Homo sapiens: one gene and its partners. The protein of the gene in region 3 purifies or fractionates together with the protein of the main gene of each other region. This does not show direct contact. Each region holds a gene or a part of one and is shown on either strand. Other genes may lie near its edges.

Evidence for each region.
Region 1: the proteins of MAFF (region 3) and RTL6 purify together in Homo sapiens (affinity purification with mass spectrometry; 3 studies listed by BioGRID and IntAct, with this or other methods). This does not show direct contact.
Region 2: the proteins of MAFF (region 3) and CALCOCO1 purify together in Homo sapiens (affinity purification with mass spectrometry; 3 studies listed by BioGRID and IntAct, with this or other methods). This does not show direct contact.
Region 4: the proteins of MAFF (region 3) and GIT2 purify together in Homo sapiens (affinity purification with mass spectrometry; 3 studies listed by BioGRID and IntAct, with this or other methods). This does not show direct contact.

The regions. Positions count from the first base shown.
Region 1 is NC_000022.11:44,494,854-44,502,594, forward strand, and holds the start of RTL6 (retrotransposon Gag-like protein 6), read right to left. Parts: upstream 3,381-7,741; 5' UTR 3,191-3,380; intron 2,959-3,190; 5' UTR 2,704-2,958; coding exon 1,984-2,703; 3' UTR 1-1,983.
Region 2 is NC_000012.12:53,716,948-53,724,776, reverse strand, and holds part of CALCOCO1 (calcium-binding and coiled-coil domain-containing protein 1), read left to right. Parts: intron 1-29; coding exon 30-132; intron 133-993; coding exon 994-1,184; intron 1,185-2,593; coding exon 2,594-2,752; intron 2,753-3,161; coding exon 3,162-3,310; intron 3,311-4,947; coding exon 4,948-5,038; intron 5,039-7,829. UniProt on the Homo sapiens protein: Functions as a coactivator for aryl hydrocarbon and nuclear receptors (NR). Recruited to promoters through its contact with the N-terminal basic helix-loop-helix-Per-Arnt-Sim (PAS) domain of transcription factors or coactivators, such as NCOA2.
Region 3 is NC_000022.11:38,204,775-38,212,603, reverse strand, and holds part of MAFF (transcription factor MafF), read right to left. Parts: intron 1-7,829. UniProt on the Homo sapiens protein: Since they lack a putative transactivation domain, the small Mafs behave as transcriptional repressors when they dimerize among themselves.
Region 4 is NC_000012.12:109,985,750-109,993,578, reverse strand, and holds part of GIT2 (ARF GTPase-activating protein GIT2), read left to right. Parts: intron 1-1,818; coding exon 1,819-1,952; intron 1,953-3,776; coding exon 3,777-3,889; intron 3,890-4,510; coding exon 4,511-4,616; intron 4,617-7,829. UniProt on the Homo sapiens protein: GTPase-activating protein for ADP ribosylation factor family members, including ARF1.

The DNA of each region.
Region 1 (7,741 bases), 6.3 Mb from region 3:
CACATGGAAACCTTCCAGGTGCCTTTTCCCAGGTGCCACTGTACCCCTTCACTTGGGGGCACCTCTCCCTGGCAGGTACTAGTCTTACCAATATAGCTGCTGGAGACAGAACAGAACTGAGCACAAAGAGAAAGTGATCTGTACACCTCCCATTCATGGAATGGTGGCCCTGCTGTGTGTCTTCCCTCCGATCACGCTTAAAGAGCACCATGGTCCCACCTGAACAGCCTTGGCTGGAGTCCAGGGGAACCTAAAGCCTGTATTCAGGCAGTTGTTCAGCAGGGCAATTGGGCTAACAGAGTTGATGGTGAGTGGGTGGCAGTAGTCTGCGGACCCCAGCAACCACTGAATGTCCTTGACCTTGCAAGGCAGCGGTTCTTCAGAATCGCAGTCACTTTTCCCAGCATCATCAAAACTCTTAAGAAGCCAGGCCCAAGGACCCAATCTCTGGGATCCCAAGACATATACATGTCTTTAGGTGGGTGCGGAGGTTGTCCTTCTGCAATCAAGCCAAGACCCTTCAGACAGGGGCAGCTGAGCCCAGGATAGGAAGCCCTATGGTCCAGGTCATGTCAATGTGGTTCATTTGGCATTGAAATATGGCGGAACAGCACAGTCCAAAGGGCGTGGCCAAACTCAGCCACAAAATGATTTCTTGGTCATCCCCCTGTGAGGAAGGATGAGGTCCTTCAGAAGGAGGACATGCATGCCAGTGCTGCATTGTCACCACACTAGGACCACGGCAGTCCACAGCTCTTTGCTTTTACAAATGCCACCAAGACCCTGGCTGGGTTGCCAGAGGCAGACACCCCCCCCGGCCTTAAGTGCTTAAGGATGTTTCCCGAAGGGAGTCTGTTTTCCCTTGGACAAAGGCAGCCCATCTGATTGCCCAGGCACGGGGAGTACATGCTACAAGGTGCCTTTGGAGACCCACAGATGGTGCGTGGGTGGCTGCAGGGCTGCAGTGAAGGCCACATGGCACCTGAATAGAGATGGGAACAGGTCTCAAGCTGGGCAAGGCTCGCCATCAGTGACAGGGGGTAGAAGCAGGAGTGACTGAGCATCAGCCGCTGTGGCACTGCCCATGGAGATCCTGGGCAGCAAAGGGAGTCGCTGGTATCCACCCTTAGCCTGCTATGACCCTCAGGCGTGGGTGTGTAGGAACCTGCAGCCTGATAGACCTGCCCAATGGCTGAGAGTCCACCACGACCTTATTTAGCAGGCAAGTTCCAGATTCCCCAAGCCTCTGGCTCCATCAGAACACCAGCAGCTGAAGTCAGGCATTAACAGAGGTGCAACATTGGTCCTTCCCAGTGAGAGCAGTGGGGCCTCCCAGACTGCATATTCATGTGCAGAGTGGAACCTGGCCCCCAGACATGGCAGAACTACGCTCCTTGCAGCAACCACTCGACCACTACAGCACAGATGAGGCCCTGCCCGCTGCACCGGGCCCTGGCAGGGCTGGGAGGCATCTTGGGCAGGAAGCCAGACCCCCTCTCCAGGTACACCCATCAAGCCACCAGCCTGGCCAAACGGGCATCTTTCTGTCCAGAGCTCATCAATAGGAACTGGGCAACCAGGTGGGGAGCCGCCAGGGGAGCTTGGAGAGGGCAGAGTAGGAGCCTCCATGAACCAAGTCAGGCTGGAAGGGGTCAGCCCTCGTGGTCCGTCAGCGTGCGGCGGAGTCCCTGTGCCTAAGTAGCAGAGCGGTAGTCATTGAAACAGGCCGGGATGCCAGCAAGAGGGAGGCGAGCATGCAGTGAGCGATAGGTACAAAGCTAGCACGTAAGAGGAAGCACGGCAAGGTGGGCAACCAGGGCGCCAGGAAGGACGGAAGGAAGATCTCCTCGGGGAACACGTCTGGAGAGGCAAGAAGGGAGGTCTTCAAACAGGGGCAAAGCTGTCGTATGGGCATTTCTTCTACACAGCAAAGAGCGTATGCTACCTGGGTGGCTGCAGACGCTACCAAGTGCTGGCGGATTCTTAAAGATTCCGTGCTCGGGCAGGCAGGGCTGGCGCTGGACTAGTCCCGTTGGAAGCTGGATGCACTGGGCAAGGCCCCGTGCCCGCAGAGGCCAGCTGGCGGCAGAGCATCTGCCTCTCTCGCACAGCCCTATTAGAGGCAGAAGTCTTCCTGATTTGGGCGCGCCGCGCATGCCGGAGCGGAGACTTGTAGGTTCTCCGCAACTCTGCCAGGAACCCCTGATAGTTGTTGCGCAAGGGGCTGTCAGGTTGCATGTGGGGGATAGCCCACTTCTCCGCCTCCCCAGTCAGTCGAGACACAAGGAAGGCCACACGCTCGGCCTCACCCGGGAAGCGGGAGGCCTGGAAGATCATGAATCTGTCCATCTGCATCAGGAACCCCGCCAACCGGCCTGGGTCCCCGGAAAAGGGCTCGGGCAGAGAGGTTGGAGGTGTGGTCATGGGTCGAGTCCCGTTTGAAGTAATTGAGGAGATGGGCGGGGTGATCTGCAGAGCCCCCGGGATCCGCGCCCTGGTGCGTAACAAGGTCAGCTCTGCCATCACGCTCTCCAGCATGTTGGTGAGATTGGCCTTCTCCGCCCGCAGGGTGGAAGCCTCCCGCCTCAGCGCCGAGTTGGTGAGGCGCAGGGAGGTCAGGGTGTCAATAACGTCATCCATCTGGGCATTCGGAGACGCTGCCAAGGCTGGGCTTTCAGCTTTGGACGTCTGCGGCTGCACCATGCTGGCCAGAGGTCAGCCACACGCTGAGATCCGCGGGTGGACCAAGAGGGTGTGGTGACCAGGTGGGCCCCTGTAGAAATGGGGGCAGTGTGGGGTGCACGACGGCAGGGCGCTGCGAGACCCCCAAGCCGAGGGCCCGAGAGAGGGGCACGCGGTGCCAGGCCCTAGGGACTTCGGCCCCGGTCCCACGCGGCTCCTTTACTGCAGACTTCGCGGACTACGGAGCCAGACGGGTGGCTGGACCTGCTCTGGGCCCTGGAGGATTAAGAAAAGATGTTTTCAAGGTTTCAGTTGCGACTAGCGGGCAGGAGGGTGAGGGGCGGCGTGGAGGGCCCGCGCGTGGGTGGCGAGGCTGCACAAAGCCCCGCGGCGCCCGCCCCGCGCCCGCCCGGGGGAGAACAAAGGGGGCTGCTCCTTGGCGGCCGCGGGCCTGGGGGCCACCACAGTGGCGGGGCCCGGCCGGGCAGGGGGCCGGGGGCACGCGTACCTGGGGTCTCGCGGTTCCTCCGCGGCTCTGTCCGCCGCCGGCCGTGACCAAGATGGCCCGCGCGGGGGACGCGGCCAGGCCGATGAATCACCGCGCGGACCGCCGAGAACTGCTTCCCGGTCAGCGCAGCCAAGCGACGGCGCTGGCGATGGCGGCGGGCGGCCTCCGGCAGGTGCAGGGACCGGGCCAGGCCGGGGCCGGGGCAGGGGCGGGGCCGGGGTCGCGGCAGAGGGCGGGTCACCGCGCGGCCTTTGTGCGGGCGGGGCCGGCGCGGTGGCGGTGGCGGGCGGGCCTTAGGCTGGCCCCGCTGGTTGCCATGGATACCGACCGCTCCCGCGCGTGCGGAGACGACCGCTGCCCCGCCCCCGGAAGTGATGCACAAAGTCCCACCCCCCCCCACCCCCCAACTCGGGCTGCTGCCAATCGGGGAAGACTGTAGTTGCTGCGGCGTCTTCATCAGGGCGGGTACCTGGTGTTCTCCCAGTCATTCCTCCCAAGAGGGCTTGCAAGGCTCTTTCTGTGGTTGTCATTGGGTTTATTTTTTTGATGATTTACTGTTCTTCTTATTTTTTTTTTTTTTTGAGACGGAGTCTCGCTCTGTCGCCTAGGCTGGAGTGCAGTGGCGCGATCCTGAGTCACTGCAACCTCCGCCTCCCGGGTTCAAGCGATTCTTCTGCCTCAGCCACCCAAGTAACTGGGATTACAGGCGCGTGCTACCATGCCCGGCTAATTTTTGTATTTTTAGTAGAGACGGGGTTTCACCTTGTTGGCCTGGCCAGTCTCCAACTCCTGACCTCAGGGCATCCGCCTGCCTTGGCCTCCCAAAGTTCTGGGATTACAGGCGTGAGCCACTGCATCAGGCCCTTATTGTGATTTGAATATAAATTTAATGTAACAAATCTTGATGTAAGAGAAGTAAAAAAAACTTTATACTACTCAGACTCCCTCCACCTAAAGATAGCAAATAGTAATACATATATATGTAACGTAGAGATAGTAATATTTCTGTACTTCCATCCAGTCATTTTTCTATGATATGTTCTACAAAATATTTTTTACCTTATGAATATTTTGTAACCATAACAGCACATTGAATTTTGAGCATTTTCCTATTAAAGATAGTTCAGAAGCATGATTTTCAGTTATTGCCTGTGGTCCATGGAACTCCTGTACCGCAAAGTATTTAGCCATGCCCTTTTTGATAGATCCTTATCTTGTTTACCATGCTAAAGTTTTATAAACTACACTTGTATATAAATCCCCACCCTTTTCTCTGCTGGGTTCCCCAGAGTAAATACCAAGGAGTGAAGATACCTGGCTGATATGGTTTGGCTGTGTCTCCACCCAAATCTCATCTTGAGTCGTAACTCCCACAATTCCCACATCGTGGGAGGAACCTGGTGGAAGGTGATCGAATTATGTGGGCAGGTCTTTTCTGCACTCTTCTTGTGATAGTGAGTGAGTCTCAAGAGATCTGATGGTTTTAAAAAGGGAAGTTTCCGGCCGGGCACAATGGCTCACGTCTGTACTCCCAGCACTTTGGGAGGCCAAGGCGGGTGGATCACGAGGTCAGGAGATCGAGACCATCCTGGCTAACATGGTGAAACCCCGTCTCTACTAAAAATACAAAAAATTAGCCAGGCGTGGTGGTGGGCGCCTGTAGTCCCAGCTACTTGGGAGGCTGAGCCAGGAGAATGGCGTGAACCCAGGAGGCGGAGCTTGCAGTGAGCAGACATTGCACCACTGTACTCCAGCCTGGGCAACAGAGCAAAAGTCCATCTCAAAAAAAAATTAAAAAAAAAAAAAAGGGAAGTTTCCCTGCACAAGTTCTCTCTTTGCCTGCCGCCATCCATGTAAGACCTGACTTGCTCCTCCGTGCCTTTCACCTTCTGCCGTCATTGTGAGCCTCCCCACCACACAGAACTGTAAGTCCAATAAACCTCTTTCTTTTGTAAATTGCCCAGTCTCAGGTATGTCTTTATCAGCAGCGTGAAAACAGACTAATACACTGGCCAAAGGGTAAGAACTGTTTGATTCCGGGTCTGGATTCCCAGCTTGACCTAGGTGATCCTTCTGCATGGTCAGTTTCAAGCTGGCATGGCTGGAGAGAAAAGATACTGAGAAATAAAAATAAAAATTTAAGCCCCCCCCCCCCAACCAACTGAACAGACCCCCTCTTGGCCAGGGGACCCCAGAGAAACCTGGGAAGCCGAGTTCCTGGCCATGATGGGATGGGAGGTTGGACACACTTCATTATCTGCCCCCGCTCCATAACCGATAACCACCATTAGGCTTTTTTCCTTAAGAGTTAAACAGAAACAAGCCTCTTTGAAAGACTTCAACATTGATACCAACCAACCATCTGACACTGCCCCTCCCTTTTTGTGGCACACAACAACTGACCAGCATTCTTTCCTAGTAAGAGACCACCAACCCTGGAGTGGTTCTGGCCAGCCTGTGGAGGATGTGCAGTGAAAGCTTTTGTGTCCTCTGATACACCTTTTGACATTAGAGGGCTGAAAACTCCACCTTCAGATCACGCTAACACTGCCATTTTTTGTAGGTGCTACCCATGAAGGGGGATGAAGCTCAGTTGCACATGTGCATATTTCTCTTCTCATAAATATTTATAACTCCTCCTGTAGCTTATTGAATATGTATATTTGGCCACCCTGATCAACATAAATTCCTGTCTTACTCTTCCAACCCTTGAAGTGCCTGTTTATGGCTTCTGGCCAGAGGCTACACTTCCCAGCCTATTCAAATGGCCACTCTGCAGGGTGCAACCTTTTATGATAAATAAAACTCTCCTTTCCAGGTTTATGAACCTCGTCATTCTTCAGTTAACAATACCCAGTATGCCAGTCTTTTGAGGACACAGTATTCAAGGAGGCTGAAGCTGGGAACCATCTGCACTCTTTAGGCAGGCCTGGGACAGAGCTGGATTCACTCAGACCTGCAGTTTTCACTCAAGGGAATTAGGGCATAAGGATGTTGTTACTGAGCAAGTGGTCTTGCTGCCTGATGCACACGGAAGCCGATACATATGGCACCAGCTTTTGAGAAAAGAAAAGCTTTATTGCAAAACTGACCAGCAAGGAGAGAGGAGGTGGGCTCAAATCCGTCTCCCTGATTTGAGGTATGGGGCAAGTTTTAAGGGATCAGGTGGCAAGAGAAAGTATTTATCAATGCTGGCTTGCCAGGGTCTGATTGGAGGGCTTCAAATTTGACCATATGTGGTAATGTATATTAAAGTAGATTTTAGCCCCAGACCTTCCAGGCTGATGGACCCCTTTGCTTGTGAATGAGTTCTGGTTTTCAACTTCTGGTCATGTCCCAGTCTTCTTGGTTCTAAGAGGACGAATCATTGGTTCTGGGTGTTGTTGGAGGTCAAAGTTTTTTCTACGGCACATGCCCAGGCTACATGACTTGCAGTTTTGGGCTCTGTTCTACCTAAAAGGCAGCTTGACATTTTGTTACCAACAGGGTAGGCCCAGTTTGGGCTGGTCCCACAACTACAGTGTCAGAACTTGGAAAGGATACTTGTACCCCAGTGTGCCAAAGTGTGCACCCTTTGTGACCAGGTGAAAACTTCTAGAGCATGAAGCAAGAGGGAAATAAAGAAGACTGTGTGTCCTTAAACTTCTTCCATGAGACCTTCTAAATCAGATGGGGGCAGGAGCTGTGTTAACCTTGACTGAGGTCAATGACTTCAAAAGCAGAAATGAGCCTGCAGCCTTCTACCCCTCCAGGTTCTTCTAAACACACAGAGGAATCCCATCCACTCGTGGGAGTCACTCCATCTGTCTCTCTGTCTCTCTGTCTGTCTAGGCCCCTGGATACTGGGCACATTAGTGAAGTGTCTGCTGCAATTCTAAGTGTGGTTGACACCATGAATCTTAAATTCCCAGGTGCATTGAATATAAGATGCACCCCAATTTCAGAAATGATAAAACATTTAAAGAAATAAATAATTTATCTGTATTTCACTTTACTTCCAAGGGGAAATTAGATGGCAGCCCATAAAATAGAGCAAAATAAAAATTAATGGACTTTTAAAAGTAAAAACAGGAGAAGAATATTTGGCTTCTCATCCAGATGAAGCTATGATTCATGCCCTGAGGTGCCTGTCTGGGCTGTGAACACAGAACAATAAAATATGCAAAGAAAATATTGAAAGGATATAAGTGGGCTCCAATCGATAAACAAGATAAACTTCACAATGGTCCAGAAACACAAACTTCTGAGTATTGACGTGGGCCTGCCGGGCTCTGGACCTGAGACATAATAGGGACCCAAGGCTGGGAACACAGCCAGGCTTCCTATTTGAATCCAGGGGATGGAGGAGAGAGGAGTCACCCCTGTGTCAGAAAAAAAGTCTGAAAAATTGGATTCAGTCATTTCATGGGGGTGGGGTGTGACAGTTTATGTGAAAGTGTGGCCCTGGGTCAAAGGAGAACACAGATATAGTCATCTTAATCTCTTGTCCCCTGGTTTAACAAGTAGACCAAGAGGGTCAGGATTCCAAACCACCAACAAAATATATATACA
Region 2 (7,829 bases), on a different chromosome or scaffold from region 3:
TACCTTTCTCCAACCTTGGGCTTTCACAGGTGGAGGCTGCCTGTGTTCGGGATTACCACACATTTGTGTGGTCTTCCGTGCCTGAAAGTACAACTGATGGTTCCCCCATTCACACCAGTGTCCAGTTCCAAGGTACAAGGGAAGATGGAAAATTGGGAGAGAGGAGCCAAGGGAGTGGAGGTTTGAAAGAAGGTAGTGGGCTCAGAAACATTAAAAGTTAGGCACAAAGGACAAGGAAAAATAAACGAAAATAAATATAATGAGAATATATCCAACAGCGCTCAGCGGATAGAGAATCACGGGATTATCGCAGAATCAGGGACATAGAAACAGAAGGAACTTCAGAGGGCATCTAGTCCCCTGTCCTACCCAAAGAAGGAAAAATGGGGGAGTAAGGAAGAGGGAAAGGTAGAATTATGTGGTGAGAAGAGGGAAAGACCTGGGTTCAAATCTCACCTCTAACACTTACAAGCTGTTTGGCCTTGGGCAAATTACATAACCTCCCTGTGTCGGTTATCTTAACAGTAAAAGGGGATGCCTGGCTTATAGGGACATTACGAGGATTTAAAATGAAAGCTGCAGGCCAGGCGTGGTGGTGCATGCCTGTAGTCCCAGCTACTCACAAGGCTGAGGCAGGAGAATCTCTTGAACCCGGGAGGCAGAGGTTGCAACAAGCCAAGATCGCGCCACTGCACTCCAGCCTGGGCGATGGAGCAAGACTCTGTCTCAAGATAAAATAAAATAAAAAGTGTTACCACAGTGTCTGGTACATGGTACGCACTCACTACATGGTAACTAGCATTATTATGATTATGATAGAGGGGCAGTGGGTTTGGGAAAGAAAGGAAGGAGAGGGACAGGCAGAAAGGAGGGAGAAGAGTATGGCCTGTGGGAGGTGGAGAAGAGAAGAAACAGTATATGGAACACCGAGCAAGGGGCTGGGGCCAAGGACAGTGGATTATTGGGGTCCTGGGTCCATTCTTCTTCCCACAGCCAGCTACCTGCCCAAACCAGGAGCTCAGCTCTACCAGTTCCGATATGTGAACCGCCAGGGCCAGGTGTGTGGGCAGAGCCCCCCTTTCCAGTTCCGAGAGCCAAGGCCCATGGATGAACTGGTGACCCTGGAGGAGGCTGATGGGGGCTCTGACATCCTGCTGGTTGTCCCCAAGGCAACTGTGTTACAGGTGAGAAAAGAGCAACAGAGTTATTCCCAGACAAGGGAGTGGGAGACAGCATTGCAAGAGGACCCTTCCCACCTTACCCTCCCCTCATCTGTGGCGCCAACTAAAGACCTCGTTGAAAGTTAGACAAAGTCCTGCCTCCAGGAGAGTCTCAGTCTAACATAGACATACACGAACATGTAAGGCAGGAAAGGAGACCACCCACAGGCCAGTGTAACTCAGGATTTCATAAGAACTTTTGCAGCCTTCCTTCTCCATGCACTGCATCCTGCCCTATGCCCTAGAGGAAGATCAAAGGGTGGAGAGAGGCTACTCCAGGGAACATTCAGAGAAAGGGGAGCACAGGACCTGCTTCTAGGACGAGTGGGGAGTGAGAGCAGATAGGCAAGGCCCCAGACCTGTACTGTCCAATACCAAAGGCTCTTAACTATATATGGCTCTTGAGCACTTCAAATGCAATTAATCCAAACTGAGATGTACTATAAGGGTAAAATATACTCCAGATTTTGAAGACTTAGTATTTTTTAAAGAGAATGTAAAAGACTTCAATAATTTTTATTTTGACTACATGTTGAAATGATACTGTTTGGGGTTTTTTTGTTTGTTTTTTGGGTTTTTCTTTTCTTTTCTTTTCTTTTTTTTTTTTTTTTTTGAGACAGCCTTGCTCTGTCACCCAGGAAGATGTTTATATCTCACGTAAGTGAAAGATGTGTGAGCTCCTACTCTCTGTTGCGGTTTCACAATCGTGATTCTCATTTGAGCCTTACAACAATTCAGACTAAGGGATCATGTTACAGATGAGGACACAGAGACTTAGAGAAGTTAAGAAGCTTGTTCAAAATCACATAGCTAGCTGGGTGTAGTGGCATGCATCTGTAGTCCCAGCTACTGGGGGAGACACTGAGGTGGAAGGATGGCTTGAGGCCAGGAGTTTGAGGTATGGTATGCTATGGTTGCACCTATGGCTAGCCACTGCACTCCAGCCTGGGCAACACAGTGAGACCCTATCTTTAAAAAAAATCACATAGCTAGTAAAAATTGCACTGAAGATTTGAACCCAAGTCTGTCCAACTCCAGAGCAGATAGGGTAAAATTAGGGGACCCATCCCTTGTGTCTGTGTTCATTGACTTGTGCCACATGAGGGATTCCTGCAATTGCTGGATGAGGAAAGGGCCAGGCCTAGAGTGGGGAGGGGTAAGAGAGATGGGCAATTCAGAGTGCCATGAGCTGGTGCATCTGACTGGGTGGTGGACGGGATTCGGTAGCACACTGAGCATCCCCTTCCTCACCTCTTTATAACCCAAAGCTATGTAACTTCCCAAACCCAAAATGCACCTGGAGAGTGGTGAGGATGGGACCTTAGAAGGGGTACTCCACCAGCACACTCCCCTTCTCCTTCTGCTGCCTGTAGAACCAGCTCGATGAGAGCCAGCAAGAACGGAATGACCTGATGCAGCTGAAGCTACAGCTGGAGGGACAGGTGACAGAGCTGAGGAGCCGAGTGCAGGAGCTCGAGAGGGCTCTGGCAACTGCCAGGCAGGAGCACACGGAGCTGATGGAACAGTACAAGGTGGGAGCTGGGCCAGGTAGGGGACAGGGCCTGGCTGCTCACCCAGCATCCAAAATCTGAACCCAGTGAAGAGGGTGAAGGAGAGATGTTAGTGGGCTTTTACAATGGTTCTGGCATCAAGGAAATAGGTTTAAGGGGTAGTGGCTGGGATTAAACTTGATGTGACAAGAGACATGTTCCAAACGTGTAATGAGACTCAGTTCTTTGAACATAGGAATGCTGGGGTAAGGTGGAGGTGGCCACGTTGATAGGTAAGGGAATGTTCCCTTACAGTTTCTTTTTCAAGGAAGGCAATGTGATAGCCAGGTGGAAGCAGTCAGACCCTGGTGTGCTCTTCCTAAGCCTTTGTTCCACCACTTGAGAGATGAGTCCCAACCTCCCTTTTCTTCTGGGGGAAACTTAATTTCAGGGGATTTCCCGGTCCCATGGGGAGATCACAGAAGAGAGGGACATCCTGAGCCGGCAACAGGGAGACCATGTGGCACGCATCCTGGAGCTAGAGGATGACATCCAGACCATCAGTGAGAAAGTGCTGACGAAGGAAGTGGAGCTGGACAGGTGAGGGGAGTCCACTGACCCCGTCACTTCCTCTCCCTTCCATGACCCCCGCACTCCAGCCCCCTCTCTCAGGCAAGCAGACCTGCTGTCTGCCTCACACGCTTTCTCTTTCCCTCTCACCCTCACTCAAGCTAGTTACTGGGGATACCCTTTTCTGCCGAGCTCTCTACCATCTTTCCAAATGCTATTCTGTATTCCTCCACTTCAGAAATAATCATAGTTACCACTTATTGTACAGCAAAAGCTGAGCAAGAGCTAGGAGTGGAGGATTTGGAAGAAGAGAATGGATGGAAGTCAGTGCAAGATAAGAGAGGATGGATTTCAGATGTGGCCACAGGAAAGATAAGATTAGACTGTGTTCTTACTATTAAGAAACATTATAACTGGTGATCCAGGAATGTTATGGAATCTCTGCCCTGGAAAAAAAAGATGCAAATCATAAACTCTTAGCACTGGGATTGTAAGATATGTATGAGGGTATGTAAGAGGTCACCCTCAGGAGGCAGCCTCTTTAACATTTGACAGCTGTCATTTTTGTATCTCTTGTATTGAGCCAAACTCTCCTCTCCTATAACTTACCAGGGGGTCCTGAGACCTCTGGAGCCACACAGAATAAATTTCTTTCTTCTTCCAGAAAATTGTTTTCTCTACCAAGTAGCATAAATATTAACCACCACCTCCCATGTCCATCCTTCAAATTTTCACCAGTTTAAACACTCTAGTTCCTTATTTCATTAAATGACAAAATTATGTTTCATTTACTACTGGTAGGTGTGATATTTTAAAAAACTGTTTAAAAGAAAGAGGCATTCTATCCAAGGCCCAAAGTAATAAGTGAGTTCGTCTGAGAGGCTTCTTCAGGATATGTTAGTCTCACCCTAGGGAGATATTAGATGTCTACATTCTAAGTCATAGGTTAGAAAAGCAGTGGTCAGATTGAGCATCTGGAAAAGATTAGGGGCTATCTAGACCAGAGGTCAACAACTATGGCCCACAAGCCAAATCTAGCCTGCCACCTGTTGTATATCCCACAGGTAAGAATAGTTTTTACATCTTTTAATGGTTAAGAACAAATTAAAAGAAGAATATTTTGTGACATGTGAAAGTTGTATGAACTTCAAATCTGTGTTCAAGTTTTATTGAAACATCATGCTCATTCGTTTACATACTGTCAATGGATGGTCCTGCACTACAATGGCAGAGTTGAGTAGTTGCCACAGAGACCACATGGACTGCAAAGCATAAAATCTTTACTATCAGGCCCTTTACAGAAAGAGTCTGCCAACTTCTGGTCTAGATCAAAAGTTTATAATCAATAATGACTGCCCTTGTCTCAAAAAGACTAGATTCTAGTCTCTTGATTGAGTGAAAACAATGGGAGCCATCAGCAAAACATTCCTTAAAATATTACACAAAAAGATAAGAAAAACTATTTCTGTCTAAATTGTTCTCTAGAACCTGGAATCTTGGTTTCCTGGGGCTTAGAACTGGATCAGCTGGCTTGGGGATTTATGCATCCCAGAGTGAAATGGAGCTCTGGGCCTAGAGCAGCAGCAGCAGAGCACAAGACAGAGGCCTGAGTCCATTCCTTCTCTGGGTGGAGCAGATTGTCTGACATGTCATCCCACCAATCACAGGCTTAGAGACACAGTGAAGGCCCTGACTCGGGAACAAGAGAAGCTCCTTGGGCAACTGAAAGAAGTACAAGCAGACAAGGAGCAAAGTGAGGTAAGGGGCTCAGAGTTGATTTGCTTTCTCCATTGTCCAGCCAGTGTTTGATTCCCTCTCGAGAGCCAGACACCAAAGGGAATAAAAATGTAAAGAAGACATTGTGTGCACTCTACTAGGGAACATAAGACATATACCTAAATCAGGATTAGTCAGAGTGGAAAAGTGGAATATAAGAGTGTCACAAGAGAAATTTTTTTTGTTTGTTTTTTGGAGACAGAGTCTTACTTTGTCTCCTGTGCTGAAGTGCAGTGGTACGATCTTAGCTCAGTGCAACCTCTGCCTCCTGGGTTCAAGCAACTCTCACGTCTCAGTTACCTGAGCAGCGGGGATTACAGCCATGTGCCACCATGCCCAGCTAACTTTTGTATTTTTAGTAGAGACAGGGTTTCACCATGTTGGGCAGGCTGGTCTCGAACTCTTGACCTCAAGTGATCCACCCACCTCAGCTTCCCAAATTGCTGGGATTACAGGTGTGAGCCACTGCGCCTGGCCTCAAGAGAAATCTAATAAAGTATTGTGGAGCTCCAGGGAGGTGTATGAGTACACATCTTGTTAGAGACATTAGAAAAGTCTTTTTAAAATGGGTGTGGAGGCCAGGCACAGTGGCTCATGCCTGTAATCCCAGCACTTTGGGAGGCAGAGGCAGGCGGATCCCCTGAGGTCAGTTCAAGACCAGCCTGGCCAACATGGTGAAACCCCATCTCTACTAAAAATACAAAAATTAGCCAGGTGTGGTGTCAGGTGCCTGTAATCCCAGCTACTCAGGAGGCTGAGGCAGGAGAATCACTTGAACCCGGGAGGCAGAAATTGCAGTGAGCCTAGATCACACTACGGCTCTCCAGCCTGGGCAACAGAGTGAGACTCTGTGCCAAAAAAAAAAAAAAAAAAAAAAAAAGGGAGGGCCATGGCTGGGCGTGGTAGCTCACACCTGTGATCATAACACTTTGGGAGGCCAAGGCGAGAGGATTGTTCAAGCCCAGGGGTTCAAAACCAGCCTGGGCAACGTAGTGAGACCCCATCTCTACAAAAAATTTTAAAAATTAGCCAGGCATGGTGGCATGCACCTGTAGTCCCAGCTACTCAGGAAGCTGAGGTGGAAGGATTGCTTGAGCCCAGGAGGTCAAGGCTGCAGTGTGCTGTGATCGCACCCCTGAACTTCAGCCTGGGTGACAGAGCAAGATTCTGTCTCAGAAAAAAAAGGGGTGGGGTGTGGGGCCTAGTACTTTCAAACCTTTTTAGCAGAACCCTTTCCTCTCCTCCCACCAATAAAGTTTTTAATCTTGTGTGGAATCTCACTGAATAAACAAAAACAATGTTTTATTACTATAAATTTATTTTTATAAATTTGAATGTATAACCTTTACTTAAAAGGTAATGAAAGCACTTAGGTAATTTTGAGGCATACCAAACTTTGAAATGAGAGGCTATCGAAGACTGTTCTGCCAGCCTCAGCAACTAATGTATTTCCGTATTTTATTTTGGTTGTACAATATCAAGAACACCTTGAGTCACACACAAGTAGGTGCAAATAACAATTTTTAAACTGTCCACCTTGCAACTCAGTTTACTCTTCAATTCAATAGAAAATACAGTAGAAACTATTCTGAGCTTTGCAAAAAAATGAATTAACCTGGAAACATATGTCAATTGGTGATCTCCAGTGTGTTAACTTGTGATTTTATGGGTTTTATTTGTTTTGTTTGTTTGTTTTGAGACGGAGTTTCATCTTGTTGCCCAGGCTGGAGTGCAGTGGCGCGATCTCGGCTCACTGCAACTTCTGCCTTCCGGGTTCAAGAGATTCTTCTGTCTCAGCCTCCTGAGTAGCTGGGATTACAGGCACCCGCCACCACGCCCAGCTAATTTTTTGTATTTTTAGTAGAGATGGGGTTTCACCATGTTGGCCAGGCTGGTCTGGAACTTCTGACCTCAGGTGATCCGCCCACCTCGGCCTCCCAAATCATGCCGAGATTGCAGGCATGAGCCACTGCACCTGGCCTTGTGTTGTTTTTCTTTTTTTAACATAATTGTTAATAATTTAGAAGACATTCAAATCAAGTATCTGCAGAACTCCTAAATCCCTTCTTCAGTACCCTGGGTTTATGTGGAAGATTGTTAAAAAACCCTTTGCTCAGCAGTGAGAATAGGTAGAATATGAGTAGACAGAGATGAGTGTGAGGCTATTCTAGGAACAGAGAAAGACGTGAGCAAAGGCTTAAAGGCCAGAACACTCAGGGCAGTTGAATGTGCGGGTGAAGTGTTTGAGATAAGGCCTAGGTTAGACTGTGGTGGATCTTGAGCTTCATTTTTATTCCACAAGCGTGAAAGGCTTTGATGATTTTTCAAGCAGGGGTGACGTGTACTGTACTTATGGCCAGGTGTAGTGGCCCACGCCTGTAATCCCAACATTTTGGGAGGTGAAGGCAGGAGGATCCCTCGAGCTCAGGAGTTCAAGACAAGCCTGGGCAACATAGTGAGACCCTGTCTCATCTCTACAAAAAAATACAAAAATTAGGCAGGCGTGGTGGCACACACCTATAATCCCAGCTACTGGGGAGGCTGAGTTGAGACAATTGCTTAAGCCCAGGAGTTGGAGGCTGCAGTGAGCTGTGACCATGCTACTTCACTCCAGTCTTGGCGACAGAGCCAGACCCTATCTCTAAAAAAGAAAATAACTGTATTTAAAGAATCAGAACTGTACCTAAAGAAGAATAATCTGATTCCCTTGTGGAGAATGAACTATTTATGAAGTTATTCAGTAGTCCAAGCAAGAAATGACCAGAGTCTGAGA
Region 3 (7,829 bases):
CACAGGCCTGACAGCCACATGCTCCTTCAACAACTATTTATTGAGCTCTTTGCCAAACATGTACTTGGTAATGGGGAGAAAAAGGTGAATAAAACTCGTGGAGGGTCAGTGGTCATTGCTCTGGGCTGGAGAAGGGGACCATCTCCCAAAGTCCCCTTTAAAGCAGCAGTCCTCTCTGTCTCTAGCTGATAGGATCTACTTTGCCAATCCTCTCAGGTTCTCCGCCATGAGAACCTGAGTTTTCTCATCTGTCTCCAAGGGGAGGGGGCAGTGATAAGAAGCCAAGGAAAATAAAGGAAGATAGGCTGGGCGCGGTGGCTCACGCCTGTAATCCCAGCACTTTAGGAGGCTGAGACGGGCAGATCACCTCAGTTCAGGAGTTCAAGACCAGCCTGGCCAACATGGCAAAACCCTGTCTCTACCAAAAACACAAAAATTAGCCCAGGCGTGGTGGTGCATGCCTGTAGTCCCAGCTATTTGAGAGGCTGAGGCAGGAGAATTGCTTAAACCTGGGAGGTGGAGGTTACAGTGAGCCGAGATTGCGCCACTGCACTCCAGCCTGGGAGCCTGGGTGACAGAGTGAGACTCCATCTCAAAAAAAATAAATAAATAAAAAGAAAACAAAGGAAGATGCTTTGTGATCTGAGCTGTAGCATCCTATAAACACGTACCGTATCGGAAAGAGCATCACCCAGTTTTGTGGACAGCAGAGGGCAAAAGCCAGATCCAAGTCCTGGTTCCTTGAGCTGTCTACAGGGTTGACCTCACGGGTTGGCTCAGCCTCTGACACATTCTGGCAGGACCGGGGTGTCTCCCAGGGACAAGGTGCAGAAATGGAAAGCACATGGACCTTGGTGCCAGACACACCTGGGGCCTTTTGGGGGTGGTCTCGCTCTCTAGTTGTGTGGTTCTGATAGGTCAGCCACTCTTTCTGTGCCTCACTTTCCCCCTGGGTGACACAGGTAGCTGTGTTAAGTCAGCTCATGTCACACCTCTCTCAGGACCTTCCCACGGCTCACTGGAGTAAAGCCAGAGTTGTCACCATGGCCCACAAAGTGCTGCAGAAAGTGATCCCCAGTGGCCGGGCGCGGTGGCTCACGCCTGTAATCCCAGCACTTTGGGAGGCCAAGGCGGGTGGATCATGAGGTCAGGAGATCGAGACCAGCCTGGCCAACATGGTGAAACCCCGTCTCTACTAAAAATACGAAAATTAGCCGGGCGTGGTGGCACGTGCCTGTAGTCCCAGCTACTTGGGAGGCTGAGACAAAAGAATCGCTTGAACCCGGGAGGCGGAGGTTGCAGTGAGCCAAGATTGTGCCACTGCACTCCAGCCTGGGCGAGAGTGAGACTCCGTCTGAAAAAAAAAAAAAAAAGAAAGTGCTCCCCAGCATCCCTTCTCCAACCTCAGCCCTACTTGGCTTCCTTTTGTTTCCCCTGCCTCAGCCACACCCGCCCTTCCTCAACACAGGATGCACGCTCCTCTCCAGGGCCTTTGCACTGGCTGGTCCCTCTGCTGGCGTTTTTGTTTTTGTTTTTGTTTTTTATACAGGGTCTCACTCACTCCGTTACAGGCTGGAGTGCAGTGACACGATCACAGCTCATTGCAGCCTCAAACTCCCAGGCTCAAGTGGTCCTCCTACCTCAGCCTCCCTAGTAGCTGGAACTATAGGTGCATGCCACCACACCTGGCCAATTTTTGTACTTTTTGTACAGACAGAGTTTCATCATGTTGCCCAGGCTGGTCTTGAACTCCTTGGCTCAAGCGATCCGCCTGCCTCCGCCTCCCAAAGTGTTGGGATTATAGGCATGAGCCACGACGCATGGCCTCTGTTGGCATCCTTGTTCCCTAGATATCCACAAAGTTTGCTCCATCACCTCCTGAGGTCTCTTCAAATCTCATGTTCACTCAGTTTAGAATTTGCAACCCCTGATACACACACGGACACACACACACACACACACACACACACACACACACACTCCCTGTGTCCCTTCCCCACCTCAGGTTTCCCCATGTGTAATTGTCATCACTCACATATATGGTGGTTATTTGTTCAGTGTCTGTCCCTCCCAACCCCCCGATTAGAATGCCAGCTCCATGAGGGCAGAACTTATACCTGATTCACCGCGGCCTCCCCCATGCCTAGAACCGCGCCTGGCACCTCGCAGATACTCAAGGAATCCTTGCTGAGTTCTCAGTGTGACTCAGGCCAAGGTGGGGACAGTCCAGGGCTTCTCAGGAAACTCCCCAGCTCCTCCCAGCCCACACAGTCAGGGGGTCTGGCAGCTCACAGGGAAGGAAGGAGTGGGACAGAAGGAAGTTGGCGCTTGCAGAGATCCCCTGACAGGGGCAGCCACTGTGGCCCTTAAGCAGGAGAGTCTTAGGGGTCACCCAGGTTTCGCTGGGGGTAGCTGGGTGGACCCAGAGTGCCAGGTCAGGACCCAGGCAGCTTTAGACCCCTGTGCGGATCCACGGTGAAGACCAGTGGCTTCATGGGGTGACCCCTGAGCTGCGACCCCCCACTGCTGAACATGCCGGCTTAGCCTGGGCTCTGGCCTCAGTTTCCCTGCCTAGCACTCCAAATCCTAGGGGGCTCAGGCCCTGGCTGCCCACCTAGCTCTCCTTGGGGGCCTCTGTGCACTCCCATCCTACCTGGAAAAGTCATATGAGATCTGCTGGCTACCCTGACCTTTCAGATACTATCTGGAGACGTTTACATGTCAACCTCACCGATCCTACCTTTCAATGCAGGCCTTTTTTTTTTCCCTTTTTTTTTTTTTTTTTTTTTTGAGATGGAGTCTCGCTCTGTCGCCCAGGCTGGAGTGCAGTGACAGGATCTCAGCTCACTGCAACCTCCGCCTCCTGGGTTCAAGCGATTAGCTCTGCCTCAGCCTCCTGAATAGCTGGGACTACAGGCGCCTACCACCACGCCCAGCTAATTTTTGTATTTTTAGTAGAGACAGAGTTTCACCATATTGGTCAGGCTGGTCTCGAACTCCTAACCTCAGGTGATCCACCTGCCTCGGCCTCCTGAAGTGCCGGGATTACAGGTGTGAGCCACCACGCCCAACCCAATGCAGGCCTCTTAAGTGGTCACCCTCACCACCCTACACACACCTGGGGAGGTCCCAGCACACCTCCCTGCTGGTCTCAGCTCATTCCCACACAGCAGCTGGACAATCTTTGCACCACGCGAATCTGACCATGCCACCAGCCAGATTAAAGCCTTCCATGGTTCGGCTGGGCAAGGTGGCTCATGCCTATAATCCCAGCACTTTAGGAGGCTGAGGCGGGCGGATCACAAGGTAAGGAGATTGAGACCATCCTGGCTAACATGGTGAAACCCCGTCTCTACTAAAAAATACAAAAAATTAGCCGGGTGTGGTGGCAGGCACCTGTAGTCCCAGCTATCAGGAGGCTGAGGCAGGAGAATGGCGTGAACCCGGGAGGTGAAGCATGCAGTGAGCCGAGATCGCGACACTGCACTCCAGCCTGGGCGACAGAGTGATACTCCATCTCAAAAACAAACACAAAAACAAACAAGCAAACAAAAAAAAAACCTTCCATGGTTCCCTACTATCCTAAGGATGGAGTCCAGACCCACCCTCCCAGCACCCCAGGCCCTGTGTGTCCAGCCCCACGCCCATTTCCCACCACTGCCACCTCCACTCTGTGCTCCAGCCACACAGAATTTCTTTCACTTCCTCCCACCCGCGCTTTCTTGCCTCTGAGCCACCTCCCACCCCATGATATTTCTCTCCCCTCACTCCCCTCTACTTTGTTTGGCAGACTCCTACTCATCCTTCGGCCCTGGGTGCAGACATCTCCTCCTCCAGGAAGCCCTCCCTGATCCCTAGGACTTGTTAGGGACCCCCACCCCTGTGTGTAATGGGTTGTATTTCCTTGCTGTCTCTCCACCAGACAGGGAGAGGCTGAGTCAGCTCTGGGTGCTTGAGGCCACCCATCTCAAGACCTGGCAGGGAGCAGGCACTGGGGAAGGGTGGATGGTCAGAGTCTCTGACGCCATCACCCAGCTTGTCACCAAGCCGGGTTCCAAGCCGAAACGTAGTTCAGTACCTCCTGGCCCTGTCTCTAATTCTTCCTCCTCTCCAGCTGCTTCCTTGGGCCTGTTGGCAGAGACAGTACAGATGCTAGGCGAATGGGAAGAGAGCAGAGGGGATCCCATCCACGTGACTTTGGGCCCAAAGGTGGGGTGTGGGAAACAGGGAAAGGAGCACTGGATTGGGAGTCAAGCTTGGGTTTAAGTCGCATCTCTGTTTTCTCAGGCTGTGTGACCTGGGGTGAGCCACTCCATCTCTCTGGGTCTCCACTTTCCCATCTAAAGGATCGGAACAATACCTGCCTCGCAGGGTTTTGGTGGAATCAAGTGGTATACACTGTAGAGGTCAGTGAGCAGCTGGGAGGTTAGAATTGCTGTCTGTCCAGGAGGGGTCAGGCCTGTAGCCAGCACTGGGGTCTCGCTCTGATTTAGCATCTCCCAGCTGGCTGGGGTCACACAGGGAACTGCAGGAAAGGCCCTTAGAGGCCATCAGGTCCTGCCTCCTCCCTTTACCCAAGGGGAGGTAGAGACCCAGAGAGGGGCAGCACTTGCCTGAAGTCACACAATAGGTGTGAATGAATAGCTGCAAAGGCCCAGGACTGAAACCTGGTCCCTTCACACCGTCACCTCCCTGGTTCGCCCAACCCTGAGGTAATGCCCAGAGAGGACAATAGAGTAGTCCAGGCTCATACAGCCAGCATGGGGTAGAATTCAGGCCTGAGAGTTCAAGACCAACCTGGGCAAGATGGCTAGACTCCATCTCCAAAAAATAAAAAGATTAGCCGGGTGCAGTGGTGCACACCTATAGCCCCAGCTACTCAGGAGGCTGAGGCAGGAGGAACCATTGAGCCCAGGAATTCAAGGCGGCAGTGAGCTGTGATCCCGCCACTGCACTCCCTGGGTGACAAAGCAAGACCCCGCCTCTTAAAAAAAAAATTAGCCGGGTGTGGTGGTGGGCGCCTGTAGTCCCAGCTACTGGGGAGGCTGAGGCAGGAGAATGGCGTGAACCCGGAGATGGAGCTTGCAGTGAGCTGAGATCGCGCCACTGCACTCCAGCCTGGGTGACAGAGCGAGACTCTGTCTCAAAAAAAAAAAAAAAAAAAAAAAAAAAAAAAAAAAGATGGCCAAGCAAGGTGGCTCATGCCTGTAATCCCAGCACTTTGGGAGGCCGAGGTGGGCGGATCATGAGGTCAGGAGACTGAGACCATCATGGCTAACACAGTGAAACCCTGTCTGTACTAAAAATACAAAAAATTAGCTGGGCCTGGTGGCACACACCTGTAGTCCCAACTACTCAGGAGGCTGAGGCAGGAGAATCGCTTAGAACCTGGGAGGCAGAGGTTGCAGTGAGCCGAGATTACGCGACTGCACTCCAGCCTGGGTGACAGAGCAAGACTCCATCTCAAAAATAATAATAATAATAATAATAGAATTCAGGCCTGAGGCCACATGGAGCCACACACCTCCTCCCTGTGTGGCCCTGGCAGGGCGACCTCCCTGGGCCCTGTTTCCCTAGCCCTGTGAAGATGAAGCTGGACTTGCCAGTTTCCAAGGCCACCCCAGCTCTGATTCTCCAGGATTTGTGTTGGGCCCGCTAGGGATACGATTTGCAAGTTACAGTTAAGTATCCAGGCCCCCTTACCAGCCGTTTGGGGAGCTGGCACGTGCAGTGATGCTTGGCCACCTGAGCTACACAGAAAGACCCAATGGGAGAAGGGAAGCCTCTCCCCACGCAAGTTAATCAACTGCCCTTTGGGTGTTGCGGCTGATACAGAACCTCAGAGGCACAGTCTGGCCTCATGCACAAGTCATTTTTCCTGAGTCCTGGATTCCTTGCTAAGTGGGAATAATCACAATAATCTTGGTGTGTAAAATATAAAGGCTTAGGCAAGGCCAGGCGTGGTGGCTCACGCCTGTAATCCCAGCACTTTGGGAGGCCAAGGTGGGCAGATCATCTGAGGCCAGGAGTTCAAGAACGGCCTGGCCAACATGGTGAAATCCTGTCTCTACTAAAGAAAAAAAAAAATGCAAAAATTAGCCAGGTGTGGTGGCGCACACCTATAGTCCCAGCTACTTGGGAGGCTGAGGCAGAAGAATTGCATGAACCCGGGAGGTGGAGGTTTCAGTGAGCTGAGAACAAGCCACTGGACTCCAGCCTGGGCAACAGAGCGAGACTCCATCAAAAAAAAAAAAAAAAAAAAAGGAGGCATAGGCAAGAAAGATCACCTCATCTCACCATCATCCCACTATCCACAAGCAACAGAGACATCACTAACCACACACAGCACCAATTCCCAGTGAGGCAGGCCACAGCCCCTGAGTCTTTCTCAGCACAGAACTGTTTTCTCCTGAGCTTGGACACAGCCTAGAATCCTCAACACTGCCTCCAGACCAGGCCTGAGAGATGGAACCATCAGCCATTCCCTATCCTTGATAATAGCGGAAGCTGGCTGTGATTGTAAATACCCTCAGGTGCTAGGAAGGTTTTGAACCTGCTCTTCCCCCACTCCTCCATGCCCTCCTGTCCGAGCCTCAGCCCCCTCAACCGCATCCTGGATGTCAGCTGAGGCACCCACGTTTGCCCAGGAATGTCCTAGCTCAGCAGTCAGGCAATCACAGGGGGAAAGTCACAAGAAGGGGGAACTTTCTGGTAACCTCAGGCTTTCCGCTGCCAACCCCAGGCCAGGGGCTGCCAAGGGGCCTGGGTCCTCTGCCTTTGCCAGGCTGGCTGACCCTGGGCCTGAGAAATAGTAGCTGATCCGATCCCCTGTTCAGCACCTGAGGCAACCAAGCCACTGTTTGGTAGCCGTGGCGGACTGGAACCCAGGGGTCCTCTGTCTTCTATGTCGGCCACCACCACCTCTCCCTGGCTTCTTCCCTTGGAAGCCAGCAGAGCTGACCTCCAGGGTCTGCAGGTTCATGACGTCTTCTGGAGGCATAAGGAGAGAGGTGACTCTTGAGGGACTGACAACTGCCTTGTCCAGTCAGCAGCCACAACCCTCCAACGTCCCCCTCCCTGGCCCCACCAGTCCACTCCAGAGACATCCTGTAGAAGGCCCACCCGCTGGCATGGGCTCCTTTCTGGCTGCTGAGCCATTCTGCTCGCTCTGTGAGGACAGGGAAAAAATGTGTTTTCCTAGCTCTTGGCAGTCAGCACTGCTGGAGCCTCCTCCCTGCTGGAAGGGGAGCAAGGCTGGAAGAACCAAGCACCACAGAGAAGCAACGGCCTGGGGTTCCAGCCCCAGTTCAGGTACCCTCTCACACTCGCTGTGTGGCCTCAGGTACGGCACTCCCTCTCTCTGGGCCTCAGTTTTCCCACTATGCCAAACGTCCTCCGAGCCTAAGGTACCTTCCAACAATGACTGTCTCTGAGTTTAGAGTTTCAGATTCTGGCCCAGAGCTCCAAGACCACCAGCAGAATGGAGGTAGGGAAAGGAAAGCGGTGAAGGCTTCCTGGAGGTGGGGGCATGAGACACAAACTATCAGACTATCAGACTAGCCCTCTTCTCCACCTGCACAGCCACAGACCACTTCCTCCTTCATCTGGACCATGACCACAACCGCCTGCTCACCAGCCTCTTGCCTTGCCCTCCGTCTCCAATCCCCATCATTGATCCTCCCCCAAGAGCTGTCAGAGGAATCACTACTGACACAAACCCACGAGCCTGTCCGTGCTTGGCCCATTTCAAAACCCTGCAATGCCAGCCTCCCCGCAAGCCAACACAGTAGGGTCCTCAGGCCTCAACCGTATTCCTGTCCACTCTCTCC
Region 4 (7,829 bases), on a different chromosome or scaffold from region 3:
CTCATTTGAACCATGGTGAAAACACTCAAGTAACTTGTCTGAGATCATTGTGCAAGAAGTGGCAGAGTTGGGGTTCAAACCCTGAACTCCTTGTCTCTAGAGCCAACCCTCTTAACCACCATACTCACTGGCTCCCAGGATTCGTCTTTGATTGAAAGCCCATAACTTTTCATTATATGGTTTGAAAGGGTTTGAATAAACTCTTAAAAAATGGTAAAGATGGTGTACATGCATTTTAGAGATTTTTGTGGACATTGAAGAATTTTTAAATGTAACCCTTTGACCAGGCAGCTTAAGTGGCACCTATTGTCACCCCATTGTGAGTCTGACGAAGTATAGCTCTTTCTTTATTTGAGGTTTCTAGGTATTCAGTTTACTTACCCAGATCCATCCTGCTTGCCAAGTATGAAATTATTCCTTGTTTCAAAGGACAGCTAATGAAGCTCTATGACTTTAAAGGGAAAAAAGTATTATACACACACTAAAAATATTATTCATTTTTATTTTACATCTTTGCCTCTGTGAAGCTGCTGTTATTGCAACTTCTTTTTTTTTTTTCAGATCAGTTGCAGGATTGGACTTGGTAGTTTATGTAAAACAATTAATTGGCTGGGCACAGTGGCTCAAGCCTGTAATCCCAGCACTTTAGGAGGTCGAGGTGAGTGGATCACCTGAGGTCAGGAGTTTGAGACCAGTCTGGCCAACATGGTGAAACCTCGTCTGTACTAAAAATAACAAAAATTAGCCGAGCTGGTGGCACACACATGTAATTCCAGCTACTCGGGAGGCTGAGGCAGGAGAATCGCTTGAACCCTGGAGGCAGAAGTTGCAGTGAGCCGAGATTGCGCCACTGCACTCCATCCTAGGGGACAGAGTGAGACTCTGTCTCAAAACAAACAAACAGACAAACAAACCAATTCATGGACATCATAGAACATTTCCTAATGGAAGAGGCCAGGTTTCCCTGTCCTCAGAACCATAGCAGCTGAGTGATTTTATGATTCTGTAACTCGCAGCTTTCTGCTAAGCATATTGACATGTTGATTCATAGCAGTGAATTAGGACAGCAGTCTACAACATTTACTGCAGAAAATGCTATCTGCATAATTCACTGTCAAAATTATATTATCTTGGCCGGGCACAGTGGCTCACGCCTGTAATCTCAGCACTTTGGGAGGCCGAGGTGGGCGGATCACCTGAGGTCAGGAGTTTGAGACCAACCTGACCAACATGATGAATCCCCGTCTCAGCTAAAAATACAAAAATTAGCCGGGCGTGGTGGTGCATGCCTGTAATCCCAGCTACTCGGGAGGCTGAAGCAGGAGAATTGCTTGAATCTGGGAGATAGAGGTTGCAGTGAGCCAAGATTGTGCCTCTGTACTCCAGCCTGGGTGACAGAGTGAGACTCCATCTCAAAAAAAAAAAAAAAAAAAAAAAAGTATTATCTTGATTTTTATGGAGATGGATCCAAAATCATTCGTCTGTACCCTCTCAATTTGCTTTCTTAGCTTGAATGAAAAAGCATGCATCTGAAATGGTAGATCCACATTAGGGCTACAAACTGTGGCCCTGAACCAGAAAGAAGATAACTGTTTACCCAAGGCTCCCACTGGTGTTTTTAGTCTCAATTAACATTGTACCTAATCAGCCAAGGTAGGTCATACCATCCAACAAGATGACCAGCCTGATGCATTGATGAGCATACTGAAACAAAAATGTCTCCTTTTTCTGACAAACCAAACTTCAGTCATCTTTTGCCATCTGGCGGTATAGCAACCTGCTGGTATCCCTGCCACTGAGATTTCACTCTCTTTCCAGATCCTTCCTGGGCATCAGTAAATAGGGGAACGTTTTTATGTGATGAGTGCTGCAGTGTCCATCGGAGTCTAGGGCGCCATATCTCCCAAGTGAGGCATCTGAAACACACACCGTGGCCTCCAACACTGCTTCAGGTAAAGGATAAGAATTCTCCTGACAGTTGGTAATTTACATTTTAGGGCTCATCATGTTAATAACTTAAATTTCTCCTGGTGTACTTCTTCCATAAGACAAAACTGTTTCATAATTGAATAGAGATGGCATGCCCATCAATGCTATTTACAAATATTATCTGTATTGAATTCAGTAAAGACTTTTCTTCCTACTTGACATAAATCTTGTTCAACAAGCTCAATTATAGGTAGATAGATGAATAGTCATTAAAATATCTTGGTACTGTTGCTCTGTTGACTTTCTAGACTGTCATCGGAAATGTTTTTTTTTTTTTTTTGAGACGGACTCTCACTCTGTCATCCAGGCTGGAGTGCAGTGGCGTGATCTCAGCTCACTGTAACCTCCGCCTCCCGGGTTCAAGCAATTCTCCTGCCTCAGCCTCCCAAGTAGCTGGGATTACAGGCACCCGCCATCATGCCCGGCTAATTTTTGTATTTTTAGTAGAGAAGGGGTTTCACCATGTTGGCCAGGCTGGTCTCGAACTCCTGAACTCAAGTGATCCACACCTCAACCTCTCTCGAAGTGCTGGGATTGCAGGCGTGAGCCACCGCGCCCGGCCAGTAGTCCATCTTTTCTATGCATGATAATGAATGTTTCTGAAGGCTACTGCCTGAGAATCTTTTCTTTAATGTACTTATTCCTGAGTACCTGCTAATATTTTTAGAACATGTTTTTCTGCTTTGATAGCAGCATGGGCTGGGATTCCTCAGAAACTTCTGAAACATTTTAAGTTTTCTTAAAGCTCTTGTTACTAGTCAGAGAGACCAAATTAAATTAATATGTTTTGATTGCATGTAGAATACCCTGTTAAATGAGTTCTTTGTTTTATCTGGAGTCCAATGTCATGTCACCTTTACTTCTATCTTGGGGTACACATTCTTCAAGTTCTCTTGGAACTCAAGGTTAAGTGTGTGTTTTGCCTTCATTTGTCTTGATTACACATTTCACTGAATCTGTGACAGCTGCACATATCCCTTAAACTTGGCTGTGTGAACCAAGGAGCCAAAACAAGTGGGTTTGTATCTCTGATGTGAAAATAACTACACTGCTGTAAAAAACAGATGGGGCTGTTTTAGGAGTCATGCCTTGAAATGAAATTTGGAGATATGATTTATTACTAACTTTTGCTTAGAAGTTTCTAACCGCTCACGCTCATGTGAAAGGGGCTGTTTACTGCTCTCAGGTCTGTCTGTGTTTGCAAAGCCAGATTGTAGTACAGAGTCTCAGTAAAGTCCAGAGATGAGTTGTTTAGAATGCCAGGGTTGACCCTAAAGCAACAATTCCCCAAATGTGGAACCACCAGTGGTATTCAAGACAGATGTAGGTAATACATGTTTTTTTTAATGGTTACATTATTTTACTGTGTATGGGAAAGCTATAACTAGCACATCAAACTGTAGTTGTTTTTACAAGTAAGTGGCTTTAAAGACAAATATTAAGTGAATAATATAGACAGTACATGGGTCATTAAGAATGTTGAAAATAGTGTTTAATTAGGTTTGGGAAACCCTGCTCTAAGGTGTCAGAGTACTTTTTTTTCTTTCATACAGAATAAGAACAGTTCAGTCACACTTTAGGTATTTAACTATCCTACTAGTCAAAGCTGAATCCTGCATATAGATTGATCATCTTTCTCATTCTCAAATCAGAAAACAATGATATGAATGATATTCCTAACAAATGAGTGTTTATAACAGGACTTTGTTTACTCTGTTCAGTCACTGATCCCCATTGAATATTTGTGAAAAGAAATTAAAGTCTTATGTCATCCTGCTTGGTTTTAGATGGTTGAGACCTTGTATAATAACGGTGCTAACTCTATATGGGAGCATTCTTTGCTGGACCCTGCGTCTATTATGAGTGGAAGACGTAAAGCTAATCCACAGGATAAAGTACAGTGAGTGGAATGTTTATAAATACTTTTATTTCTTCATAACAAATGGGGCCCACTGAAAGGAGTGCAGCTATTTTTGGTCAGTCTCCGCAAGGGCAGCAGAGGAGGGGGTTACCCTAGTTGTGCATCAGGTTCTTTGCTATTAGAAATGCAGAATGGGGTGGGGCAGGACCATCTGTTTAGCATGGCCACCCAGCAGGAGTAAGTGGCTTCCTCAGTTGGAAACCATGGCTTGGAGTCTGTAAATGTAATCAGATTTAAACTTATACTCAAATAAGAGGCGATCAGACCAGAAATCTAGGTCTGGGCACCCGTCTGCCTGTTGCCTCACTTATAAGATGGGACTAAATGCTGCTTTCTCCCAAAGTTGCTAAATCAGTTCAGACAATTACACAGAGAAGAGGGCTACTATAAAAAGCAGGTACTCTGGAGTCCCAGCCATTATAATAACTAATGTATGTTTTCAAACTGCAGGTCTTAAACCTTGCTGAAACTTACTTGAGCATTGTTCATTTTATTCTCAAGTGGGGGATGTGGGTCACTTCCTCTTCTTTTTACAGTACAAAGAATGGGGATTGTTGTATCTGAACGAGTGAACTGTTTTCTTTTTTGTTTTTGAACCAGTCCCAATAAAGCGGAATTCATCAGAGCCAAGTATCAGATGTTAGCGTTCGTCCATCGCTTGCCCTGCCGGGATGACGATAGTGTGACTGCCAAAGATCTTAGCAAGGTGGGTCACACCTTTTAAAATCCCTAAAAGAGCGGGCTGAGACAGCATATTGTTTTATTTGAAAAAACGAAAAAAAAGTCTGGTTGTGGGCTTTTTTTTTTTTTTTTTTTTTTTGAGACAGAGTCTCTGTTACCCAGGCGGGAGTACAGTGGCGCGATCTTGGCTCCCTGCAGCCTCTGCCTCCCGGGTTCCAGCGATTCTCCTGCCTCAGCCTCCTAGGTAGCTGGGATTACAGGCGCATGCCACCATGCCCAGCTAATTTTTGTATTTTTAGTAGAGACGGGGTTTCACCATGTTGGCCAGGCTGGTTTCGAACTCCTGAGCTCAGGTGATCCGTCTGCCTCGGCCTCCTAGTGTTGGGATTGCAAGCGTGAGCCACTGCACCCGGCCAGGGTTTTTTTGTTTTTCGTTTGTTTTTTTTGAGACAGGGTCTTGCTCTGTTGCCCAGGCTGGAGTGCAGTGGTGCAATCACGGTTCACTGCAGCCTTGACCATCCAGGCTCTAGCAATCCTTCCACCTCAGCCTCCCGAGTAGCTGGAACTACAGGCGCATTACCATACCCAGCTAATATTTTTTATTTTTTGTAGAGACGGGTTCTTGCTATGTTGCCCAGGCTGAAAAAAGTTTTTAAAGAAAGAAAAACAAAAACTCATTTCTGCACATTCATTAATTAATAGCTTTTTTGTCAGTCGGTTTCGTCTTTAATCTGAATTCAAATGGCAGCCATTCATATAGTGGAGGTTCAGGGCAAAGAGGAAAAGTAAGTCTCTGGAAGGCTGTTTGTGTTTTTCCAATATGGCTTTTAAATTATATTTTGATAAGTTTTTTGTTTGTTTAACTTTGAAATAGGAACCATCTCAGAGTTGTTTCTAGAAGGGACTAGAAAGATTATAGGACAATTGTTTCTTTTTAATAAGGACTAGAAAAAGTACTAAAGGAAGGGGACTTCTTCAGGTTTCCAGGTTGAACAGTAAGTATGATCTTCAGAAAGCAATGTGTGACTCAAAGCTATAGTACACAGAATGGTTTATGATACTTGTAAAACGAGTGAGGTGGTTTTCTTTATGTGGGCCTTCGCATGTTTTTGAGAGATGCTGTAAGAAATGTGCATATTTTCAAAGCGCTGCCTTGGATAAATGCTTACTCACACAGAGCATGAGAACTTACTTATTCAGAACTTTTTTTATTACTTTTTGGCCGGGTGCGATGGCTCACTCCTGTAATCCCAGCACTTTGGGAGACTGAGACTGGCAGATCACTTGGGCTCAGAAGTTCAAGACCAGCCTGGGCAACATGGCGAAACCCCGTCTCTACAAAGAATATAACAATTTTAGCCGGGTATGGTGGCCGTGCCTGTAGTACCAGCTACCTGGGAGGCTGAGGTTGGAGGATGACTTGAGCCCAGGAGGTGGAGGTTGCAGTGAGCTGAGATTACACCATGGCACTCCAGCTTGGACAACAGAGCAAGACCCTGTCTCAAAAAAAGAAAACATTTTCTGCATCTATTGAGATGATCATGTGGTTTTTGCTTTTGCTTCTATTTATTTATTTATTTATTTATTTATTTTTATTTATTTTTGAGATAGAGTCTTGCTCAGTCGCCCAAGCTGGAGTGCAGTGGTGCGATCTCAGCTCACTGCAAGTTCTGCCTCCCAGGTTCATGCCATTCTCCTGCCTCAGCCTCCCAAGTAGCTGGGACTACAGGTGCCCACCACCACACCCGGCTAATTTTTTTTGTATTTTTAGTAGAGACAGGGTTTCACCATGTTAGCCAGGATGGTCTCGATCTCCTGACCTCGTGATCCTCCCGCCTCGGCCTCCCAAAGTACTGGGATTACAGGCAGGAGCCACCGCGCCTGGCCTGCTTTTACTTCTATTGATGTGGCAAATTACATTTATTGATTTGTGTATGTTGAGCCAGCCTTGAATCTCAGCAAAAAAGCCTACTTGATCATGATGGGTTAATTTTTTTATTTTTATTTTTATTTTTTATTTTTTATTTTTTTGAGACAGAGTCTCGCTCTGTAGTCCAGGCTGTAGTGCAATGGCATGATCTTGGCTCACTACAACCTCCGCCTCCCAGGTTCAAGTGATTCTCCTGCCTCAGCCTCCCAAGTAGCTGGGATTACAGGCACGTGCCACCAGGCCCAGCTAATCTTTTGGTTTTTTTTTGTTTGTTTGTTTGTTTGTTTGTTTTTGAGACGGAGTCTTGCTCTGTGGCCCAGGCTGGAGTGCAGTGGCGCAATCTTGGCTCACTTCAAGCTCCGCCTCCCGGGTTCATGCCATTCTCCTGCCTCAGCCTCCTGAGTAGCTGGGACTACAGGCGTCCGCCACCACACCCGGCTAATTTTTTTGTATTTTTAGTAGAGACGAGGTTTTACTGTGTTAACCAGGATGGTCCCGATTTCCTGACCTCGTGATCCGCCCACCTCGGCCTCCCAAAGTGCTGGGATTACAGGCGTAAGCCACCACGCCCGGCCATTTTTTGTATCTTTAGTAGAGACGGGGTTTCACCACGTTGGCCAGGCTGGTCTCGAACTCCTAACCTCATGATCCGCCTGTTTCAGCTTCCCAAAGTGCCGGGACTACAGGCCTGAGCCACTGCGCCCAGCCATGGTGGATTAACTTTTGATGTGCTACTGGATTTGGTTTGCTAATATTTTGTTAAGAGTTTTTTAAAAAATCTGTGTTCATCATGGATTTTGGCCTGAAGTTTTCCTTTTTTGTTGTGTCTTTGCCAGATTTTGGTATCAGGCTGATGTTGGCTTCACAGAATGAGTTAAGGAGGAGTCTCTCCTCTTTGATTGTTTGGAATAATTTTAGTAGGATGTTCTTCTTTGTATGTCTGGTAGAATTCAGCTGTGAATCTCTTGAACTGGGGAGACGAAGGTTGCAGTGAGCTGAGATCATGCCACGGCACTCCAGCCTAAACGACAGAGTCTCACTCTGTTGCCCAGGCTGGAGTGTCGTGGCACAATCATGGCTGACTGCACCCTCAACCTCCCTAGTCTCAAATGATTCTCCCACCTCAGCCTCTCAAGTGGCTGAGATCTCAGGCATGTGCCACCAAGCCTGGCTAGTGTGTGTGTGTGTGTGTTTTGTTTTTGTTTTTTTTAGATAGAGTCTCTGTTACCCAGGCTGGAGTGCAGTGGCACGATCTCGGCTCACTGCAACTTCCACCTCCTGGGTTTAAGCGATTCACCCGCCTCAGCC